3 linked regions of the Homo sapiens genome follow. The protein of the gene in region 1 interacts with the protein of each later gene in a pairwise test. Each region holds a gene or a part of one and is shown on either strand. Other genes may lie near its edges.

Region 1 (8,035 bases):
TGTTTCACTTGCCATAGCTTTGGTTCTTTGATGACTATGCAAATGAAGTCTCTTAATGACCCCTAGCTTGTTAAGGTGTTACTTGGGTGGTACCAGGCCCTCATTTCAGGGCGGGGGGGTGGAGGGTGGCCAGTCCTCTTGGCTTTGTTCTGTATCTGAGCTGCACCTGGGGATTGTTAGCAGCTTACAGATATTATCCCCTCACACAGAATGAAGTGGCCAACCACGAATTGGGTGCAAGCCTCTTTAGTGGAGCTGAGAAAAATACTGCCTCATGTTTCAGGCAGTTGGCAGGGGTGAGGCATGTTACTCTCTTTTTGTGTAAGATTGTTAGCCAAGTCTGAAGCCCCTCCAGCTTCACAGATCCTTTTCATTTTGTCTAGTTTGGAGGAATTTTACACTGAAGAGCAAGGAGGTGGTAGACAGCTGTCATAATCAATGACCTGTCAACACCAAGACACTCCACTGTCTTATCAAAGTAGGGTTCTGCACAGGCTGTGGGGTTGATCTGAGCTTGCTGGTGGTCACTGTGGTCTCTGGGGTCTGTCCTGATGCTCTCTGTTTGTACAGAGATTCTGATTTTTTTTTGGAGGCAGGTGTTAGCTGCAATTGTCTAGATTCACTTCTTATTCCTCTGTACCTTGGTCTTTTAGGAGAATGATTGGTGTTATTATCTAGTTAATATTTGAGAGCCCAGACTGTGCGAAAGGCTGGCAGTGCATAATAAACACCATTTATCAAAATTCAGGGAAATTGCCAGAGTTCATTAATGTTTTAATAATATTTGGTATTAGCATAATGTCTCTGCCAGCTCTTTTGTTATCTTCATTCCCTGGTGAGGTTCGATAGAGACTGGTTTGTGTCCCCATTGAACAGATGCAGAAAAGGGGGTATGCAGATGCTGGAGAAGGCAGGAAAGAAACAAGCCGTCACCTAACCTACAGACCAAGTGGTCGGTACCATGGCATGATTTTTACGGTAGTTAATCATTTACTAATCATCTTCTCAGGGCCAGGAACTTCACATAGACTTTTGAGGAGGTATTGCTTTCCCATTACATAGATGAAGATATTGAAATTTAGTGGGGTGAAGAAAGTGGATATCCAGGGTCACAAAGCTAATAGATGGTAGAGATGCTACTGAAACTCAGGTCAGCCTTACTCTAAAACATGTTCCTCTTCTCCTACTTGAGACTATTAAGAATAGATGCATAAAATCCAGAGGAAAGGCTTTGTTTTAAAAAATCACTTCTTTCAGGATTTTGTTTCGATTTTAGCTATAAGTTTTAGCGTAATATAAGTAGATTTCTGGAACAGTCTGAGTTCAAGTATTCTATAATAAGATCTCCTATTTGAATTTTTGATTGAGAAAATCATAGTAATTATAATAAAATGTTAAAATCTATAGTTTCATTCCCAGTCTGCCTCTTGTTGGCTTTGTGGTCTTAGTATTTTCTCTCTCTTTTTTTGAGACAGGATCTTGCTCCGTTGCCCAGCCTGGAGTGCAATAGTATGATCATGGCTCACCGCAGCCTCAAAGTCCTAGGCGTAAGCTATCTTCCTGTCTCAGCCTCCCTAGTGGCTAGGACTAGAGATGTGTACCACCGTGCCCAGCTAATTTTTTATTTTTTAAAATTTTTGTGTAGATGGAGTCTCACTATGTTGCCCAGGCTGGTCTCAAAATCCTGGCCTCAAGTGATCCTTCTGGCTTGGCCTCCCAAAGTGCTGGTATTACAGGCATGAGCCACCATGCCTGGCCAGTTTTTTCATTTATTAAACATGGATAACAGTAAGCATTGTTTTTCAGAACTGTTATGTCAGAATGTGAAATTACTTTGCTAACTAAAAAAGAATATATACGTGAGTTTATTATTTAAATAAATGTTTGTTTATTTATTTATTTGAGACAGGGTCTCGCTCTGTCACCTAGGCTAGAGTGCAGTGGTACAGTCTCAGCTCACTGCAACCTCTACTTCCTGGGCTCCAAGTGATCCTCCCACCCCAGCCTCCCAAGTAGCTAGGAGTGCAGGCGTGTAACACCACGCCTGGCTAGTTTTTTGTATTTTTGGTAGAGACAGGGTTTCGCCATGTTGCCCAGGCTGGTCTCACACCCCTGAGTTCAAGCAATCCTCCTGCTTTGACCTCCCAGAGTGCTGGGATAAAAATATACTTTCTTAGAAGATCCAGTGAACTTAAATTGGAATTATTTCTGCAGCTTGACATCTGAAAGAACTATGCAGTACAATTAGGGTAGCCCAGGAGGATTTTGGCTCATACCATGTGCTGACCATTGTGCTAGCTACTTTGCCTAAGTCCATTAGCTCATGTAATCTTTTTTCCACAACTTTGTAAGCATAAGTATCATGCCTATTTTGGAAGTGAAATAGGTGTTGTTACCCTTTTTAAAGATGAAATGGTGAGGCTCAAAGAAAGAAGTCAAGAACTTAGGCCAAGATCATTCAGAGTTGGAGACTGAATCCAGTTATTCCTGACTCAGAAGCTCATGTTCCTTTTACTGTAGTAGCAATCAGTTTCCATCACTTTTGGGTGAGACATACTATACTCAGTAGCCTGCCTAGTCTGTAGGAGCAAAGATAATTTCTTTTTTTCTTTTTTCTTTTTTTTTTGAGATACAGTTTTGCCCTTGTTGCCCAGGCTGGAGTGCAGTGGCATGATCTTGGCTCACTGCAACCTCTGCCTCCTGGGTTCAAGTGATTCTCCTGCCTCAGCCTCCCGAGTAGCTGGGATTACAGGCGCCCGCTACCACACCTGGCCAATTTTTGTATTTTTAGTAGAGATGGGGTTTCACCATGTTGTTGGCCAAGGCTGGTCTAGAACTCCTGACCTCAGGTGATCCACCCACCTCGGCCTCCCAAAGTGCTGGGATTACAGGCGTAAGCCACCATGCCCCGCCTGAGATAATTTCTTTTTGTCTTCCTGTCTCTGTCCCTCTTTCTCTCCCTCTGTTTTTTTCACGCATTTGACAAATACTTAATGAATGTAATAGTGTTTGCCAATCAGCGTGCAGGGTTCTGAAGATAAAATGGTGAACAAAAACTTTGAGAAATTCATAAGGGCCTTCAGGGACCCCTCCCCTGTTTCCTTTGCCCACCAACTCTAGCAGGATATTTTGCTGGCTGTTTCTCCTTTCAGGCCAATAAGTGCCATGTGGCCATTTCAAAGATGTAAATGCTTGGTGTGGTGCTCCTGGACCTACCATATTTTTAGGCACTTTCTACATCTCCAGAGTGGGTAATTTTGAAGCCCTACCTTTCCAGTGTTTGATTGCTACTTTTCTGTTAATGAATTCCCCCAGCAGGATTTACCATGGAAATTTATGGTGCGTTGGTGTTTTATGGGCCTCCATGTGCTTGGAAAGTTCCCGAGAGTTGTATTCACTATGTGCTGCATCTGTAGAGTGCACAGGATCATCTCGGAAGTTTGTTCTATCTCTGAGAACATTATGTATCCAGGGCAGGGGATCTCTCCAAACATTCATTTTTGTGCTAGTTTGGATTGGTTTCAATTCCCCCTCCATGGTTCTGGGCAGTGGCTGCCCTTCGTCCTTGAGAGAAGAGGCCTAGAACTGTCGACAGTCCTGGGTCTTCCTGTCATTCCTTGTCATGCCACTCATTGGATAATACATTGCTCACAGTTAGGCTGAGCCCCTTTTTAATTCACAGAAATATTAGATTCTAACAATTCAAAATCTCTGGTCCCATTCAGACCTATTGAATCCGAATTCCCTAGAGATCCCCCAACAAGCTGCTCAGCATGTCAACATCCTGTCCTGTGTTAGGCTTGATGTTCTGCATTCTCTGTTCTAGGCACAGTGAGCATGATCCCAGTTGACTTTTGAGACTAGAACCAAGCTGCTGAGCCTAATGAGCAGATAATGTCTGTCTGCTCCTGGAAAGTAATAGTGGAGTTCTTCCACCTGGGACAGAGACAAAAAGGCATAGTGAGTGAGACAAGGGTGTTTACTATGTCACAGGTTTTAATAGGACTTTACTGTATCATTTAATCATCACCATTACACTTTGAGGTTAAAAAAAAAAAACTGTGGTGAACCCTAGAATTAGAAAAATATAGGAATTCATCCAAGTTTACCAGCAAGTGAGTGGCATAGGTGGGACTTAACCTGGGTCAGGATGAATACAAAACCCTGGCTTTTAACAAGGACAATATTCTGCACTCAGGACCAAGAGACCCAGATTTTACCTCTGAATCTCCAGTTATTAACATTTGCTGTGTGACGTTGGGCAAGTCACTCAGACTTTAAGCCTCAGTTTCTAAATATATAAGTTGGGCTTAATCATTATATGTACTTCATGTGTTCAGGTGCATTCAATTCTGAATCTGAAAGTTTTTATATAGTAAGAGAAAAGGGAATTTCTGAGTTCTTGTACCAGCTCTGTTTTGTACTATGTGGTATGTGTTTTACCCTAAGTCTCCTAACCTATGTTGGGCCTAATTCTGCCCGTTTTCCAATGATAGAAAATGCAAAGGAAAAAGTAAAATCACTCCTAAACTTGAATCACCATTAATATTTTGATGCACATTTCTTCTAAACATCTGTGTTATACATATGCTTATACCCAGACATATGTGTACATTTACATAACAGGGATGGTATGGGATCCATGCTCTTTTATTAGGAGTAAATTTATCAATATGCTGTCCTCTACATTTTAAAGAGGAGCTATAAGTTGAAACTTGTAGAATGATGTTTTCCTAGCTTCTTTCATTCATCTCTTTTTATTCCAAAGAAGATGCATTTCTAGAACTTAGAGCACATTCTGTTATTTATGTATATATGTATGAATGACAGGTCTCACTCTGTTGCCCAGGCTGGAGTGCAATGATGCCATCACGGCTCACTGTAGCCTTGACCTCTTGGGCTCAAGCGATCCTCCTACCTCAGCATCCCAAGTACCTGGGACCACAGGAGAGCACAGCCATGCCTAGTTAATTTTTAAATTTTTTTTTTTTTTTTTTTTTTGTAGAGATGGTGGTCTTGTTGCCCAGGCTGGTCTTGAACTCTTGGGCTCAAGTGATTCTCCCACCTTGGCCTCCCAAAGTGTTGGGATTACAGGCATGAGCTACCACGCCCCACCTCTATTCTATTATTTAATAATTGGGAGTAATGAATTCTCACATTGGTGACCTCCGAGGATTTTACCTACCTTATTTGCCATCTTCTGAGGATTTTACCTACCTTTCCATGCCGCCTCCTGTCTCTGCATGTTCTACATTGTCATGTAACATACACCCCAATTTCTCACTTTCTTTCTTTGCTTAGGCTCTTAGGCTCTTTTCTCTCTCTCTCTCTCTTTCTTTTTTTTTTTTTTTTTTTTTTTTTTTGAGACAGAGTCTTGCTCTGTCACTCAGGCTGGAGAGCAGTGGCCGATCTCAATCTTGGCTCACTGCAACCTCCGCTTCCCGGGTTCCAGTGATTCTCCTGCCTCAGCCTCTGGAGTAGCTGGGATTACAGGTGCGTGCCACCATGCCTAGCTAATTTTTTGTATTTTTAGTAGAGATGGGGTTTCGCCATGTTGGCCAGGCTGGTCTTGAACTCCTGACCTCGAGTGATGCACCCACCTCGGCCTTCCAAAGTGCTGGGATTACAGGCGTGAGCCACCGTGTCTGGCCGAGGCTCTTCATCAGAGTTCCCTAACCTGGGTCCATGGAAACAGCATGGAACCTGTGAACTTGAGTGGGGAAAAAAGGACATCTTTATTTGTATTAACCTCTAACTTAAATATAGCATTTTCTTTCATTATAAATATAGATGGGAAACCATAGTGTTATTAGTGGTTCGTATGTTTTTGTTGCCAATAGAAATCCCAGGCATTTTTATTTCACATTACAGTTGTTGCAGATATCTCAAAAAATGTTTACTGCTGCTTTGAAATTATGGTGGATATTAGACTTGCTGCTAGATTTTATTATTTAAGGCACTAATAATCACATAGGGTACTCTATCACAAATTTACTTTAAAAAGGCATTTATTATTATTTTTTTATTTTTTATTTTTTTTTTTTGAGACAGAGTCTCGCTCTGTCACCCAGGCTGGAGTGCAGTGGTGCGATCTCGGCTCACTGCAAGCTCCGCCTCCCGGGTTCACACCATTCTCCTGCCTCAGCCTCCCGAGTAGCTGGGACTACAGGCGCCCGCCACCATGCTTGGCTAATTTTTTTGTATTTTTAGTAGAGACTGGGTTTCACTGTGTTGGCCAGGATGGTCTCGATCTCCCGACCTCGTGATCTGCCTGCCTTGGCCTCCCAAAGTGCTGGGATTACAGGCGTGAGCCACCGTGCCCGGCCGCATTTTGTATTTTAATACTGATTTTCTTGGAAATCCTGTGTGATGTTATCATATTCACTTAAATATGCTATTCTCTGCAGGGATCTATAGGCTTCTACAGTCTGTCGAGAGGATCCATGTCACAGAAACAATTAAATGTCCCAGGTTCTACAGATGACCTTCTGACACCTTATGTCCGCTTTATTTTTTTCTCCCAGCTCAAATGCCACTTGACTCATGAAGCCTTCCTATATGTCTTTGAGAAGAAGAAAATTTGGCCCGGCGTGGTGGCTCATGCCTGTAATCCCAGCACTTTGGGAGGCCGAGGAGGGCGGATCACGAGGTCAGGAGATCGAGACCATCCTGGCCAACACGGTGAAACCTCGTCTCTACTAAAAAAAAAATACGAAACATTAGCTGGGCGTGGTGGTGGGCGTCTGTCATCCCAGCTGCTGTAGTCTCAGCTACTTGGGAGGCTGAGGCAGGAGAATGGCGTGAACCCAGGAGGCGGAGCTTGCAGTGAGCCTAGATCGCGTCACTGTACTCCAGCCTGGGCGACAGAGGGAGACTCTGTCTCAAAAAAAAAAAAAAAAAGAAGAAAATTTACCTTTCCTGTGTTTCCTCCTAATACCTGGTCCCTTTTGTGGCCCTTAGCCTGTTCTTTCCCATGCTTTAAAGAATACCTGGCTTATTTATCTTTGCAGCACCCAGGGGGTCATGCACATAGTAGGTGCTCACTAAGTGTGATGTGACTTGAGTCACTCTTTAAAAGAGCTCTTCCCAGTGAAGCTTTTTATTGCAGTCTCTGAGAAATTAGCACTTTCTAACCTTGTCTCTTTATGATTTTTAAAAATCCATTGAGTTATACTTTATCATTTTCTGGAGTCCAGAAAATTTTGATCTTATCTCCTTATGTGGCAGAGGGATGTAGGGCAAGTTTTTCTACATTCCTTAAGACCTATCCTAGGGCAATATAAGAAATGTCCATAGTGATTGCTGTAGCTTGTTGACTGGGAACAGCAAACTGCAACTCATGACTCATAGGGATGTTCCCTTCCTTGTGGACCCCGGTGTTTCTTCACAGGCATGTGAGGGTACTTCCGGACCTCTGGCATGCCCATACTCAGGGCTTTTCAGAATGCACAGTGGGCACACGTTATCTTTCTCATTATGGCGTTTAGTGTGCTTATCAGTCATCCTCCAAGTGCCTCCACTTGGATGGTTAATCTGGAACGCAAGTCGTAGGAATTCTTTATTATTAGAAACTACTGTTATTTGCGATCAATACTAATTTATCTTTGCACAATGCTTTATAGATGACAATAAATATTCACATTTGGTATGGTATTATCCTTAGGTCAGGCCTTTGAGAAAGGTTGTATAGGAAGTATTAATCCCCATTTCTAGATGGGAGTACTGAGACTCTGGGAGGTGATGTGACTGATTCGTAGGTCACAGAATCGGTTGGAGATCAAGACTCCACCCAGCTATTGGGTGTCTTCTGCCGCAGTCAGTATATCACCTGCAAAGAGCTTGTAGACTTTTCTACTCTTAGCCATCTTTCTTGGGTTGAGGGGGTTGATTCTATAGTCGCAGACAAGGGAGGGATGCGAGGTTTCATTCCCCTTTGGACTTCTCTGCTCTTCACCTGAGCCAAGGGTATATAGGGGGTGAATCTGACTGAGAGTGGAATGAGTAAATACAAGCCCTATAGACATTCATTCCCTAG
Region 2 (8,035 bases), on another chromosome or scaffold:
AGCCAAACCCCTTTCCACAGGATGAGGACTCCCAGAAGACATGTCTACCTGAAGTTCATGCAGCCCCTTCTAGAACATATTCTGGGTAGTCAGTACCCTGGAATTCCTTCCCCAAATGCCCACTTCCAGACCTAGTACAGGACTCCTCCCTCATCAGATCCAGTGTGCACACACCTAAGTCTAAGGGACAGATAACCAAGGGATAGCTTCAGTTTTACCACATAGTCGCTTACCTTCACCATTTTTTCTCTCCACCAATAAATTCCTTTACGTTTGCTATTCCATATTAACAGCTCTCAATGAGATTCCTTTGATGTTGAGGAAATGACCCTTCAACCTATAGTTAATTTTCTATAATTACATCTGATGATGAGGCTGCAGTGTTTTAATTGCAATAAATTTTGTTAGAGCAAAGGAAAGCTGCAGCTTTCCAAACAGTTGGGAAGTTGTGGTTCTTCTGCCATACTCCTCCTTTATAACAGCCAGGAAGAAGGAAGACACATGTTCCATATGATTTCTTCAAAAAGGTCTGGGGGAAAAAGAGAAAGGAAGAGATTAACTGACTTAATTTAACACTTGGAGCTATAAATTGTGTGTTGCAATATTGCGATAGGATGTTGCATCAGAACGTGGCAGTTGTAACAATGCAGTGGGTATCATAACCTTGAGGAGGCCTTTGTGGTGCTATATGCCCTTTTCCTAAAGATTCAACTCCAAGTATAGATCCCTCTGTTCTGCCAAGGAGAATGGTATTATTTAAATTACGTTGTACCTCACTATAAATTTGTCCACTTGGTCTAGGGCACAGGAATATAGTTGAAGGTCTGCTTGGGCCAGACATCATTGTTCTGAGTCCCTGCATCCCTGCTGATTCTTGTTGTCATATACAAGCAGGGAAGTGCTGAGGTTTCTTCACTTCTTCCTGGAAGTCTTTCAGGAAAGCTGGGAGGTATTATGGTGAGGCTGTAATGTCTTTATTCTCAGGACCGTTAGTTTTGAAAGTGTATGTAATATTTCCTGAATATTTCACATTGCCTTTATCTAAAGAATTGAAAGATTGTGACTAGGAGTTTGTCCCTGAGAAACAAGGATGAGGGTAGGAGACGTGGAGCATATTTTAGCAAGATTCTTAATAGTCAGAGTAGATATTTGGTAGCTAATTCTTGTTTTTGGTTTTGGTTTTTTACTCTTCCACTTTATTGTAGGAGAAAATTCATGGTGCATGAGAGAAATGAAATAAGTGACAGAATGTCAAAATCAAACTTTAAAACATAAACTCTTGAGGGCAGAGCTGATGACTTAATTGTATGTGAGTAGAACTGGTACTGTCATGGTTGTGGATTTGGGAGTTTGAGGAAACTTGAGCAAAGAAGTGGCAGATGATGAAAATAAATCAGTTTTAATTCTGATAAAACTGGTTTTGGAAAATGTGGTTTAGATTTAAATGTGGCACAATTTTTTCAATACTAAACTCTAGAATTAGTCAGACTTGCCCACCCAGTAACAGGTAGCTTTTGACCTCCTTAAGCCTCCTTATGTGAGGGTCTTGTACTATAAAACTCCAGGGATTGAGGACTAGAGCCTCATTCTAAAAGATGGGAAGAAAGGGAAAAGAGATGAGTGAGGCATACCATTCCTCTCTCCTCCTCCCCACTAAGAGAAGCCTCACCTTCTCCCCAGGGGGAGTTGGGGAGAGAAGGCAGAAATGTTATACCGGACTGGCACTCCCCCCATGCAGAAGGAAACCTCATGAGTGGGAAGCAGCATTCCTCTCCCACAGTAAGTGACGGTGATATGCTGGCCTTTGGGCTATTATAACAGGATGGAGACTCTTAGCAAAGTTTTAATGATTTATAAATCATTTTCATCATTTACAGAACTATGGAGACATTCTCTCAAGATAGTGTGTGTGATAGTATGGTTTTTAAGTTCATACCTTCTAGAAATACCAGCAAAATATTTACAGATAAACTGATAGGATGTCTGGGGTTTACCTCAAAATTATCCAGGAACAAGAGGTGTGTAATGTAAAAAGATTGTCCATGATGGGTGTTACTTGTTGAAATTAGGTGATGGGTACATGGAGTCCATTATATTATCTCTAGTATAATGAAGATTTAGTTTGAATCTAAACTTTGCTACTAGCTATATATGTCCTTAGCAAGTTACTCTTCCTGAGTCTCCATTTCCTAATCTGTAGAATGAGAAAAGTAAATACTAAAATCTATCACATAGGACGGTTGTTATTATTCAATTAAAGTAAGTTACAGGCCAGGTGTGGTGGCTCACACCTGTAATCCCAACACTTTGGGAGACTGAGGCAGGCAGATTGCTTGAGCCCAGGAGTTTGAGACCAGCCTGGGCAACATGGTGAAACCCCGTGTCTACAAAAAATACAAAAAAATTAGCCAGGCATGGTGACACACGCCTGTAGTCCCAGCTACTCAGGAGGCTGAGGTGGGAGAATCGCTTAAGCCTGGGAGGCGGAGGTTGCAGTGAGCCGAGATCGCACCACTGCACTCCAGCCTGGGTGACAAAGTGAGACTGAGACCTGTCTCAAAAAAAATAAAATAAAAATAATTATGAGCCCATTATATATAACACATAGAAGGCACTCAAAAATTAGTAACTATGATTATACCTGTAAATAGAAAAATAATAAGGCATCTTCTTCCTTAAACATGGAATGTTTGCTTTTTGGCGTGTGTGTGTTTCCCCCATTTGACTGTATTAACTTGGATTTTGTTTTAACAGCTCAGGTGCCTAAAAGGCCAGAGGGGCTTCTCAGGCCAACCTCCTTTTGATGGAATCCACATTGTCAACCATTTAATAGGAGATGATGAATCATTCCATTCCTCCGATGAAGATTTTATAGATAATTCCTTACAGGAAACTGGTGTTGGTTTTCCTTTGCACGGAAAATCTGGTTCGATGTCTTTGGACCCCGCAGTGGCAGATGGTAGTGAGAGCGAAACAGAAGACAGTGTGCTGGAGACCAGAGAGAGCAACCAAGTGGTTCAAAAGGAGCGGCCCCCGAGAAGAAGAGAGTCGTATTCAACCACTGTCTGACCATCACTGTGACCTAGACTATGGATTTATTTAAGGGATCAGTTATCATATGATTAGGGCTTTTTGGAAATAATTTGTTTCATATGTACATATATATATATATATATATATATATATATATATATATATATATATATATATATATTTTACAGTCTTATCTGCCTTTTTATCTTTGCCAAATCTTTACCACTGATTTACCATTGCCATAAAGTAGACTGGTATATGGTTAATGTGTAAAACAAGGTTCTAACAGTATTACTGAATATTAATGTTTCTTGTTTAGAAAATGCAACTATATCTATATGTGGGAACCATTCTGAAGTTCAAAACTATGGAAAATTGAATTTTCTTCAGACAAAACTGCTCTTGTGCAATATTTTATGCTCAGTGAGCAAATTGTGTATTTATGTTTATCAATTTGTTCTCAAGGTGGCTGTCTACAGACATTTGACCAAGACATACATCTGATTTACCTTGTGTTTTTTTTTTTATTGTTGTTTTTTTTTTTAAGACAGAGATTCAGTCTGTCACCCAGGCTGGAGTGCTGTGGTGTGATCTTAGCTCACTGCAACCTCCGCCTCCCAGGTTCAAGCAATTTTCCTGCCTCAGCCTCCCGAGTACCTGGGACTATATGTGCGCACCACCACGCCTGGCTAATTTTTTGTATTTTTAGTAGAGATGGGGTTTCACCATGTTGGCTGGGCTGGTCTCGAACTCCTAACCTCAAGTGATCCACCCGCCTCAGCCTCCCAAAGTGCTGGGATTACAGGTGTGAGCCACTGCACCCAGCCTACCTTGTCTGTTTGTGTCTGGGAGGTTTTTTTTTTCTATTTTTATTTTTTCATGAAAATTATTGGTGGGCCACTGAAAGTCCCCACACACAAAGCCTTTATTCTATATAATTTTATAAACACAAATTCATGATTATCTGTTTTGAGAGTTTTAAGTTTTGTTTTAATGTTTAACTTTTATGTGCATATGATGCTTCCATGTGTTGGTTACTAGAGTAGTAGGTTAACTACAGACATACTGTTTTGTTTGTACATATTTATAAATCTGTACCACCTAACATTGAACATCATTTTATATGAAGAACATACATGTTGCAAAATGACTGCTTTCAGCATCTAACAGGACTTCTGTAAATAATAGGTTAAAAGTTAAAAATAAAACACTAATGTTTTAAGAGCTTTAGTATTTTGCTTAGCATTCAATACTAGCAGATTCATAACTGATGCCTGTTCAAAAACACTGTTGGTGGAATCTTTTATTTCATGTGTATGTAACTACTAAATTTTTCATGACTGAAGAGGTTATAGCACATATTAGTTAGTGCTAATATTCTACTGAATATAATTTAAGCAATGGGCTAAGGTCCAAGAAACATAGCAATTATATCTACAAATAATCTATTAACATGATCTTCAGAATCTCTAGTTTTTGTTCTATAGATAAAGCCATAAGAATCCTTTCCTACCAGTTTTTCCTATATCATTTAGATATTATTTCCTAGAAAACAGGATGCCTGTCACTGATAAGTTAGAGAAAACACCCAAATTATACTTGCACTATGGAAAGACGACATGAATATGTTGACTGGGTACTTTCTACTCTCATTTTTGTTAGCCTATGAAAAAAAAAACATTTTGTTAACCTATGGAAAAAGCCTTGGAAGAGAAAAGTAGAATTCAGTATGTATGGAGGCACAGTTTTGCACAGTATGTTGCATGCGGCAAAAAAAAAAATATGAAATAGAGTAGAAGAGATAAAAGTAGTTTTCTGTCAAAAACTAGGAGTTAAGCCTTCAGGTACGTTGTGGACTAGGCTTTCCAGCAAGGTTTTTGTAGCTATTTGCTTGCCTGAGAAATGAAATTGAAAACATACCCCTGCGTGTCTGTCCTTAACACCAGGCTAAATTCTGGTGGTTAAATAACTTATCTGTGGTTACAAGCTAGTAAGTAGCAGAGCCAAGATTTTTTTTAATATAGAGACAGGTGTCTCACTGTGTTGTCCAGGCTGGTCTTGAACTCCTGGCCTCAAGTGGTCCTCCTGCCTCAGCCTCCCAAAGTGTGGGGATTACAGGTGCGAGCTACTGCTCCCAGCAAGAGCCAAGATTTTAACCTAGATCTCCCTAACACCAAAGCTTTTGAAAGGGTTCAGCTGAAGAATTTCTCAATTCTCTGTTTTGTTTTGTTTTTATTTTTGTTTTTTGAGATGAAGTCTCACTGCACTCAGGCTGGAGTGCAGTGGTACGATCTTGGCTCACTGCAACCTCCACCTCCCGGGTTCAAGCGATTCTCCTGCCTCAGCTCCCAAGTAGCTGGGACTACAGGTGCACGCCACCACAACTGGCTAATTTTTGTATTTTTAGTAGAGATGGGGTTTCGCTATGTTGGCCAGGCTGATCTCAAACTTCTGACCTCAGGTGATCCACCCACTTTGACCTCCCAAAGTGCTGGGATTACTAGACGTAAGCCACCACACCTGGCAATTCCCTGCTTTTTTGACAACATAATTTAAATGAATTTGATTTAAATGTTTCCTGAATATATATACAGATAGATAGATGAGTATCAACACTTACAAGCTCTACACAGTCTGTGAGTGTAGATACTACTTACTCGTAGGATTGTCTTGTGCTTTGGGGATTTTTGTTCGGAGTTCTATACTATCAGCCCAGAAAGCTATCAATGTCCAAGTGAAGTGAGATGATGCATGGCCACATTATTGCTTTGACCCTCACATCAAGAAATCTGAATGATCTGGACCAGGGGTCAGCAAAGTGCAGCCTACAAGCTATTGCAGTCAGCTGCCAGTTTTTACTTTTTTAAATAGTTGGGAAAAAAATTCCAAAGACTGATATTTTGTGTCACATGAAAATTATATGAAATTCAAATTGCAGTGTCCATAAGTAAAGTTTTATTGGGGCACACCCATGCTCACCCTTTTAAATATTGTGTATGGCCGCTTTGTGCTACAGTAGCAGAGTTGAGTCATTGCAAGGGAGACCATATGGCCCAGGTAGCCTAAAATATTTATCTGATCCTTTACAGAAAAAGTTTGCTAACCCTTGATAACAGATACTCTAAAATGCAGGTTTTTCTTCTTCAATTTAGCTCAGTGGTAGGTCAAATTGTTTGCTTTTGCTATTAAGCTTATGATTTGGAAACGTAAAATTTCATGGTGGATATTATAATCAGAACTATTCAAAAGGGAAAACATGCCAGCCATTTTATATGATGAAGTCTCTTATTCCATAGAAAACTGTAGAAAGATATCTGTATCTTTGGAGAAGGAGAAAGAAAGGAAAGAACTCCAGAATCCCATCACTGTTCTTTAAAGCATGCATCACAGACCTTTAAGAGTATGCTTTATTGAGTAAAGGTTATAGTTTGACTTTAAGATAAGAAATTTTCTAGAATCATGTTTGAATTCTAAACGTTGATATTCTTAAGTACCATTTCTGATTAGGAATTAGGTGTTAAAAGAATCATGGTAAGGAAACCTTAATCCGTTGAAACTCTTGTAATTTGGACAACAAAAAACTAGAAATAACACTCTTTTCTTTGAAGATCTGATTCAAATACACCTTAGAAGAGTTTAAAATCTCCCAGGCCTTTAGGATGCAATAGGATATTATGCCTTGGTTTGACTCCTTTTCATTCAAATTAATGTAAGTATGTTGTTCAAGACTTTGAAGCATTGAACAATGTTCTCGATGAATTTTATTTAATTACTGACATTTTGTGATATTTGAATGTTATTAAGTTAAACACTTAGAGTTGAGTATATTCAGGGGAGAAAAGTGAATGAAATGACTCATAATAAGAAAGCTTGCTCCCTTGGGACAGTTACCTTCCTGGTGTCATTGCCATCCTGGGTTGACAAGCTGAGAGTAGAGGATACAAGTGATGTGAATAAAATGGAAATTGCATTGAGTTAATGAAACAGACACTTTTAGATCAAGAAAACACTTCAACAGCCTTTTTAGAAATTGGCACACTCCTATAGTCCCACCTACTCAAGAGGCTGAGGCAGGAGGATCACTAGAGTACAGGAGTTTGGGGCTGTAGTGTGTAATGATCACACCTGTGAAAGAATAACCACTGCACTCCAACCTGGGCAACATGGCAAGACCCTGTCTCTTTAAAAAAAAAAAAAATCCTGGGAAAAGAAGTCAAAGATGTAATTTTACACAATTTCTGCCCCCACCGTCTTTTTTGTTTGTTTGTTTGTTTGTTTGTTTTTTGGCTAGATACTAGGTATTCAGTGTTTGCTGAGATGACAGGTTTCTACTAATCAGCCAGTTATTTGGGAAGGAGAAAAACTTTTTCTCAATTCTGAACATGATGCAGCTTGTTAACTCTCCAGATAGTGCCTTTGATTGAAAATAAGGTCTACACCTTTTTAAGTATATTATTTCTGACATCGTAAGAAATAATTTAGTTCCTTATTCTCATTTATCTTTTATATAATGTACTGTAATATTCAGGTTTAAAGTAAAATAAGTATATGAATTATATTTTGGTAAAACTGTTTCATGACCAGCTTGATTAATGTATATTAACATACCAGACATTGACAGCGAACATTTCATGAAATCAGTTATTTACTTACCAAAACAATGAGTTTTAGCTTGAAAGTTACTGCTGCTCTATTATTAACAAAACTAAGTTTTAAAAATTAATTTTAATTCTACTGAAGTTTAATTTCTGGTTAAAGGTATAGTGGATGCTATTTATGATCCAAGTTTTTACATCACATCCATTGATCTGCCTATCCCTTCTTTTTACTCCAAAGAGGAGATGATAGAATAATACATTCAGTATACTACCAAGAAGCAAAGTTATAATGTGTTTCATTTTGCTATTGGAATTTTTTATTGTAACATTGTATGATAACCTGAAATGTTTACTTGTGCCTTTTCTTTAAACAATTAAAGTTTTCCATTTTATAAGAATTTCTG
Region 3 (8,626 bases), on another chromosome or scaffold:
AGCCTGGGTAACATGACAAAACTCTGTCTTTACAAAAATATACCAAAAATTAGCCAGGTGTGCATGGTGGTACACATCTCTAGTTCCAGCCCCAGGAGGCTGAGGTGGGAGGATCACCTAAACCCAGGAGTTTGAGGCTACAGTGAGCCATGATTGCGCCACTACACTCCAGCCTAGGTGACACAGTGAGACCCTATCTCAAAAAGAAAAAAATATATATAATCCACCTTATCCATTCAGGCTTCTCTGATTCCCCAAGGAGTGCCACCTACTCTCTCCTTTATGCTTCCATTGTACTTTGTGTCCATCTCAACATAACACTTACCATGCTCTGCTGCCATTATTTGCTACCTGTTTCTCTCCTCAATCAGATTGAGAGCTTCTTGAAAGCAGAGATCTTGTCTTTGTATATCTGGTTTCTAAGAATGCATACTGAGTAAATGAATAGAAGAAAAAATGAATGAGGCAATTAGTATGTATGCCTTGAATGGCATTAAATTTAGGCCTATGCCAATCAATGTGTAAAGGTTGAGAAAATAAATAAGGGGAAGCCAAGGATAGAAAATAAAACCATGCTCATCAGAATAGAAGAGGATAGGCTGGGCGCAGTGGCTCACGCCTGTAATCCCAATCACTTGGGGTCAATAGTTTGAGATGAGCCTGGCCAACATAGTGAAACCCCATCTCTACTAAAAACACAAAATTAGCCAGGCTTGGTGGTGCGCACCTGTAATCCCAGCTACTGGGGAGGCTGAGGCAAGAGAATCACTTGAACCTAGGAGGCAGAGGTTGCAGTGAGCCTAGATCGTGCCACTGCACTCCAGCCTGGGCTGGACAGAGCAAGACTCCATCTCTGAAAAATAAAATAAAATAAAATAAAACAAAAAAACAGAATAGAAGAAGATAGCTAAGAACCACAGTGGTCAAGCCAGCCTGGCTTCAACAGAGATGAATGGAGAGACCACGGTCAGCCCCATTAACAGAAGAACTGGGGCCAGGAACGGTGGCTCATGCCTATAATCCCAGCACTTTGGGAGGCCGAGGCAGGCAGATCATGAGGTCAGGAGTTCGAGACCAGCCTGACCAATATGGTGAAACCCCATCTCTACTAAACATACAAAAATTAGCCGGGTGTGGCAGCACATGCCTGTCATCCCAGCTACTCAGGAGGCTGAGGCAGGAGAAACGCTTGAACCCAGGAGGCAGAGGTAGCCATGAGCCGAGATCACGCCATTGCACTCCAGCCTGGCGACAGAGCGAGACTCCATCTCAAAAAAAAGAAGAACTGAGTTCAAAATCAGTTCGAAAGGTTCAATGTTGGGTCACAGGATCAGGCAAAAAGCAGAGGCAGAAAGGCCTTAGGAGTGTTCCAAGAACTAGCACTGGACCAGCTGAGAGTCAGAGAGAGTTCACCACGTGGGAACAATGCAGCCAGTCATGTGGGATGGTGGCACCATGACAGTATCTAGTCAGGACAATGACAGCCCTAGGGATAATGCTGATGAGTTCCTGCTTCAAAAAAGGTCATTGTCATTCCTTTAGTCCTGATACCTAGAACTATACAAGATTGTTCCCTGCCTCTCCCCAAGCCCCATAACTTGATCTTAAAGGCATTATTGTCAATTAAAGTAGTCCCAAGTTCTAGAAGCTATTTTTATTCAGCCTCGTCTAATAGGGCTTTCATTTTAAAATAGCTTTATTTTGAATCTATTTACTGTTCCCAGCCCCTATCACTTTGTTCTTATAAACATATTCATTCCACATGCATCACTGACAGGCACTGCTAGGAAAGGAAACTAACCCATCTTGGCCACCTTTACACATCAGGTACTTATACTAAGGTGATTTCTATATATTACAGTATTGAATCACCACAACAATCCAGTGACGTAGGTATCATTACATATTATTATCCCCAATTAAGACATTAGGGAAATGAAACGTAGGAAGATTCAGAGAAAGCACAGGAAGGTGAATATGCCCAAGATTTCACATTAAGTAAATGGAATGCAGGATTCAAATTTACCCCTGTCTGAATCTAAATCTCATTCTCTTTCCATGGCATCATTCTCTCTCCTCTCTAGGCCTTTATAGAGGAAATATAGGCCCAAATAAAATATCAAAATCTCAGGATGGGATGACAGGCTTGATTAAGAAACCCAGTCACCAAGACCACGCAGTAAGAAATGAAAAAGAAAAAAAATAATAAAATGCTGAGAACCATAGTCTGCAAAGTGAAAGGAAGAATACCTGGGAGAGCTAGAGTGACCTCCACATGCAAATACACCCTGCAGACAGGAACAGTCTTGATGGGAAGAGCAAACTCCCTAAATGGTCGGTTGTAACTTTCCTACTAGTTGAAAAGTCAGGAAAAGCCTTGTGTGCTAACTCTCTGGACAAGCGCACAAGAATCCAGGGTTGTGACTTCAAAAAAAAATATGCTGACAAGTCAGAGCTGGCAGAACAAGAGGAGGTCGAGTTGATGAGAAAAGAGAGAGAGAGAGAGAGAGAGAGAGAGAGAGCGCTGTAATCAAGGAGAACCAACTGAAGCTGGAGGGAAGCAGAAAGAATAGCCAGGCTGGTTCAGGAGGCAGTTCTGGTACCTCTGACCCCATTGCCCACCCCCAGTAGGCAGCATGAAATATGCCAGAGGTCAACAATTTTTTTTTTTTTTGTATTTTTTAGACAGAGTCTCACTCTGTCACCCAGGCTGGAGTGCAGTGGTGCAATCTCAGCTCACTGCAGCCTCTGCCTCCTGGGTTCAAGCAATTCTCCTGCCTCAGCCTCCCAAGTAGCTGGGAATACGTGCCCACCACCAAGCCCAGCTAATTTTTGTATTTTCAGTAGAGAAGGGGTTTCGCCATGTTTGGCCAGGCTGGCCTCAAATTCCTGAACTCAGGTGATCCACCGGCCAAGGCCTCCCAATGTGCTGGGATTACAGTTGTGAGTCACCGCACCCGACCCAGAGGTCAACAGCTTCTGCCCTAGATCAGAAGTTTACTCACTTTGCTCACTCGGTATAAATCAAGGACCCTCTCATACCTGGGAATGAGTTTTGTATTCCAGCCTAGAAGTAGAGCCAGTCCCAGTTTGAACTTTTTGCCTTTCTGTACTCCCAGTTCTTACCCTTTTGCTGAGCCTAGGACACATGCAAGGCCTGCCCTTCTTAATCCAGATTTTTGAGTCTTAATCCCAATTTTTCCTATAGTTTCCCATACACTCCATGGCAGCTTAGAGTAGGCTGAAAACTGCTGAACTGTTTAAGACTTAATCCTTCAGAGTAACATGGCAGAAGTAGCACACTTTTTTAACATAAAGCTGTTCAGGACTCTATTACAGAAGAGGCTATACTTCCTTAATTACATTCTATTCTACAGCCACCTCAAAATAACTAGTGAACACGTTCAACCAGGATCATTGGCAACAGCCAATGGGCACAGTGATCTGGAAATGGTCTAGCCAAGCTGTTTGGGCTGTAGACCATGGCATTCCTAAGAGCAAAATAGGCAAGGAGTCCATTAATATTTCACTTGACTTATGTCACCATGGAAACCCCTGGAGTAGTGAATGGCTTTGGGGAGTGGTCAGATTCAACCAAAAATAACAGAAATCTCTGTCCCCCAGGTAAAGGATTCCTACTTTGTGTGTGTCTGTGTGTGCACACAGGCACACTCGAGAGACTTTTGGCATTCTTTGAAGTCACTGGAGGGGCACAGAGATAAACCCACTCAGCCTTGGCCTCCAAGACTAACAGAACACAACGTTTCCCTGAAAGAATAAAAAAAAAAATACAGGCATAAGAAAACACACAAACATGGGCTTAGAGATTTAAATACACACACACACACACACACACACACACACACACAGGCCCTAGAAGGAACATACACCCTGAGATACGCACTCATTCTAAAATAAACTCGGGAATACAGAAGGACACGGGCATGTCCTTTCAGAGAGGCACACTTCTAGGCCCTAAGTAGGAGAAGGAAGAGGGGAGAGGAAGAGGCAGGGAGAGGGACAGGGAGGGGGGAGGAGGGAGGGAGAGAGAGAGAGAAACGAAGAAGGGGGCGGAGGAGGAGATGGAGGAGACACTCTTTATTCTATAGGAGGAGACATCACGGAAGAGAAATCAACACTGAGGCCTTGGCCGGGCGCGGTGGCTCACGCCTGTAATCCCAGCACTTTGGGAGGCCGAGGCGGGTGCATCACCTGAGGTCAGGAGTTTCCAGACCAGCCTGGCCAACATGGCGAAACCCGGCCTCTACTAAAAAATACAAAAATTAGCCGGGCATGGTGGCGCGGACCTGTAATCCCAGCTACTCGGGAGGCTGAGGCAGGAGAATCTCTTGAACCCGGAGACGGAGGTTGCAGTGAGCCGAGATCGCGCCATTGCACTCCAGCCTGGGCAACAGGGCGAGACTCCGTCTCAGAAACAACAACAACAACAACAACAACAACAACATCAACAACAACAACAACAACAACGAACAAACCAAAAACCAATGAGGCCTGAAGATAAAGACACATGTACAACCACGGATGTCAGACTTCCAGAGGCACGGCCAAGGCAAAAGACAAACACATACAGACTGCAGCAGGCAGACAGGCCGGTTCCAGAGTCAGGCTCCGGTGAAGCTCCGAAGAAACAAACACGCAGGGAGATTTCGGAGGCGTCCGAGGACACCGTGGGGCCCGGCTGGCTCCCTCTGTCTCTGTGCGCGCCCCTTCCCCGGGTCACCCCGCCTGCGCCCGACCTGCGCCCGCGCACCGCGCCCTCGGGGCTCCCTGGGACAGCCCGCGGCCTGGCCCGTGCGCCCGGGCTCCCCTCCCCGCCGGCCCGGCACTTCCCAGCTCTGACGCGGGAGCTTCTTTCACACCAATGGGGCTCGCGCGCGGAGGGGCCCTGCCCCTCCTCCGGGAAGGTGTGTCCCTGTTTCCTCACCTGAAACTTCCTAGGAGAACCCGATCCCTCCCTCCCGTCGGGCGGCCAGGGGCGGGCCGCGGGTGGGGCGGCCGGGCCTGCGCTGGGGACGGCTCTGGGGACTGCGGCCGGCGCCGGGACCTGGAGGGGACGCTGGGGCCGAAGCAGCATGTGACACCGACCAGGTGGGTGCCCTCCTCCCGTCTCGGCCCTGGGCTCCCGGCGGCTGTGGAGCCCGGCGGAGGTGGGGCAGGGACAGGAAGGAAGAGGAAGCCAGGCCTTTCCCAGGGATCAGCCCCCGCTGGGTCCGGGGCGCAGGCTCCGGAAATGGGGGGGCTGGGCCCGCAGGCAGGGCTCGGGGTGTGTGGCTGAGGACCCTGGTGGGGAAGAGGAGAGGAACTAGAGGAAATGTTGTTGCCTACAAGTTTGCTTCCGGTCGGGTCCCGCCTAGGAAATGGGCACCCTGCCCCCAGACGTTCCCCGGGCCAATAATCAGGGCTCTTTCTTCAAAGTAGGCGCCCTGGGGAAAGCTAAGCCATATCAGAAGGAATAACTGAGATTCCCTTTCTAGGCTGTTCCTTACCTGGAGAGGTTTTATCGGCTCCTTTTCCTTAACCAGGCCGGGGCCTTTCCTTATGTATCTCCATAGGTATTTGCATACTGTGTGAGTCTATGTGTAGCTTCTCTCCGTGTTAACCAAAGCTCCGTAACCTGGAACAGTGAATCCTGCCCTGCCCCTCACCCCAGTTCCCTACATATGGGGAGCCTCCTAAAGCTTGATGTGAATCACAACGTTGCATTCTTAGCAAGGTGGAAAGAAGTTATTTAGAGTTGGGGGCTGAGGTAGGCGTTGGGGTGCTAGAATGCGGACGCAGAGCTCTAGAACCCCTGAGCATCTTTTGCAGTTGCCTTCCGGCAAGACTACCGGAGGAGAGCCAGTTGTGATACTACGTCATTTCCAGATCTCAGTCCCTTTCTTCCCTTCCTGGATCTTGGGTTCCAAAGACAGATTTGCCCTCCTGTCTACCTAGAAGTGAACTCTGGCCAGGACTCTTGTCTGGTTGAGAGAGAAGGGTGTGTCAAACAGATGAGAGAGGGTGGTTTTCCTTTCGAGCTTCCTCCCTAGCTTGCTCCCCTACTGCACTCCACTGTCTGGCCTTGCATCTTGGGCCTAATCCAGAGGTCCCAGCTCCAGCTAAAAAGCTCTTGATGTGGCCTCTGTCTCAGACGTCTTGTTTTATCCACATTTGGAGCATGAAGAAGTTCCTGGCATAGGCCTTAGCAAAATGGGTGTCATTTGTTAACCAATCTGTGGGCCTAAAAGTGAAGCCATGGCTAGTGAAGGAGTCCTGGGGAGCTGGGAAGATGGGATGAGGGCGTGTCAGTTCTGGGTGAGACTGATATGCAGGAGGAATGTATGTCATGGTCCTAGTGGGGAGGAGAGAGAAATCAGGAGGAGTGCAAAGGAATCCCTCTCATCAACAGAATATAGTGATTCTCAATAGAGAGAAGAGTGTTCATATATTAGAGGTCCTGAGAGTGTATCAGTGCCCTTAACGCGGTCTGTCTGAGGTTCCGTGGCCACGTTACACGTGGTGTCTGTGGGATAGACAGGAATACGTCATTTGTGGTGTCTGGAGAGGTCAGTCGCTATGTGGTATGGACAGGAATGGAGTCACTCGTAGGGTCTTGGGTTCAACGGGAGCAGCATTACTCAAGTGTCAGTGGTGTAGACAAACAGGTGACCAACAGCTCTAGTGTAGACAGGGGCTGGGTCACTCACAGTGTCTGTGGAGTAAGCAGGAGCCGATCACTTATAGTGCCTGCAAGGTAGACTGGAACAAAGTCACCCTCAAGGTCTGTGTTAATACACAAACACGTCACTCACACTAATGTTATCTGTGTGTATGCCACCAGGACCACAGATGAGATTGTAGAGTGTAAGTCAGCATTGACACTAATAATGTTCTTATATAAACTATCTGGTCTATAAGGCAGTTGGTGTGACATTTTCAGACATTAGAGAATAGATAAATGTGTATTACAGCTTTCACTGGCATGGTGGGACTTTCCTGCAATGGATAGAACACACACTGTAGTAGTCAGTGGTCCAGAAAGCTACCCCTGTTTTGATATCTTTGTAGTATTGAGGGCAGTGATGTCAAACAGTGAATAAAGTTATATATCTATGTGGTGATCTTATTTTAACCTCAATATTATTTTAGTGATTTGTAAGTCAGAATATTTGAAATCAACCTTGCTAGAAAATCCAGGAAGCATGGTCCTCAAAAATATATATATGGCACTGAGTCTCAGTTCAAAGATTTGGCAGTTTGATTGGGGAGGGGTTGTATCCTTGAAATACAGTGTTGTTTCTAGTGACTAGAAATAGACAAGAGCTAAGGTGTTGGGGGGGGCTCTAGGGAAGATAGTGAGCTCTGTCACACATTATGTTAAAGGGATGACTTGAAGCTTTGCCTCTCAAGAAGTCACACGTGGGTGAGGTTATGTGGATGCAGAATGTCTGTGGTCTGAAGCAAGGCCGTATCCCCATAATCCCATGCCCTGGCTTTGCCTGTACACAGATAAACAGTGATTATTCACCCTCAGTGGAGAAGGAGATGAGGATGTTTGCACTCTAACGTAATGAGCATTGCAAAAAACTCTCTCCTGATGCCTTTACGTGAGTAAGACCATGATTTACAGATTTCCTTTCACTTTGTCACATTTTAGCTTTGTCATGCCTGATTGCAACGGGATCACTGAGATAGGATCAAGTATAGGGAACGTGGGGTATGTTCTCCCTTTGCGGTAACTGGTGGCTGAGCAGGTGACCACTGATATTTCCAAATGAAAAAAGACAGTTAGAAACGGTGTCAATGGGCTTGCAGAGGCAGGCATGCACTGTGCCACTAGATTGGAACAGAAAATGTCCAGGTAGCACATGGTATTTATAGATATACCCTAGATATGGCAGAAACACACTTTTATTTAGAGGCTACTTGTTTTGAAGACGTGATGGTGTATATGGAGGAGAGGGCCTGAACCATGCAGATGTAAGTGAGGAGAGACTACAGGTTTAGTCCCATGGTCTCCTTAGGCCAAGTTTCAGAAAGTGTCTTAAAGTAAGCAAGTATATTATTCGATGTGTGGTTGAGAGAACAGGGCCACATCACAGAATCACCCATAGGGATTATAGTATTTTGTACTTAAGGGCTAGACATAGGGAGCCAATCGCATATGGTGTCAGTTAACTGGAAAAGGACATAAAAGTCCTTCTGCCTGTGTACAATTATGTCAGACATATCTCTTTGCCCCATATAGATGGTATCTCTGTCTCTGGGATGGCCAGAATCTTGTCACATACTACTCTGCAGTGTGCTAGGGACCTGCCTGTTTGGTTATGTCAGGCTCTATTGCAAGAGTTTGTAAGGATGGCTCAGTGTGTGTGTGTGTGTGTGTGTGTGTGTGTGTGTGTGTGTGTGTACACACACAGTGGCTAAGCAGGACAGTATTCTGAGCAGGTGAGTTTTCAGTTTAAGCCTGGACCAGACAAGAAAGGTGCACGGTCAGGTGCAGCATTGGGTCCATAGAATTCTGGGGTCTTCTCTGGACTGATGGCCTGCCAGCTTTCTTTCAGTAGGACCTCTAAGTGCTTACAGGAGACTTAAGTCAAGCGACTTTGCTTCAGGTTTGCCCATA

Evidence for each region.
Region 2: the proteins of MB21D2 (region 1) and EVI5 interact in binary tests that used the Homo sapiens proteins (3 or more experiments, as listed by UniProt).
Region 3: the proteins of MB21D2 (region 1) and ARHGEF5 interact in binary tests that used the Homo sapiens proteins (3 or more experiments, as listed by UniProt).

The regions. Positions count from the first base shown.
Region 1 is NC_000003.12:192,907,265-192,915,299, reverse strand, and holds part of MB21D2 (nucleotidyltransferase MB21D2), read left to right. Parts: intron 1-8,035. UniProt on the Homo sapiens protein: Probable nucleotidyltransferase that catalyzes the formation of cyclic dinucleotide second messenger in response to some unknown stimulus.
Region 2 is NC_000001.11:92,508,690-92,516,724, reverse strand, and holds the end of EVI5 (ecotropic viral integration site 5 protein homolog), read left to right. Parts: intron 1-1,680; coding exon of another isoform or gene 1,681-1,779; intron 1,780-2,754; coding exon 2,755-3,069; 3' UTR 3,070-8,029; downstream 8,030-8,035. UniProt on the Homo sapiens protein: Functions as a regulator of cell cycle progression by stabilizing the FBXO5 protein and promoting cyclin-A accumulation during interphase. May play a role in cytokinesis.
Region 3 is NC_000007.14:144,350,393-144,359,018, forward strand, and holds the start of ARHGEF5 (rho guanine nucleotide exchange factor 5), read left to right. Parts: upstream 1-5,009; 5' UTR 5,010-5,109; exon of another isoform or gene 5,110-5,326; intron 5,327-8,626. UniProt on the Homo sapiens protein: Guanine nucleotide exchange factor which activates Rho GTPases. Strongly activates RHOA. Also strongly activates RHOB, weakly activates RHOC and RHOG and shows no effect on RHOD, RHOV, RHOQ or RAC1.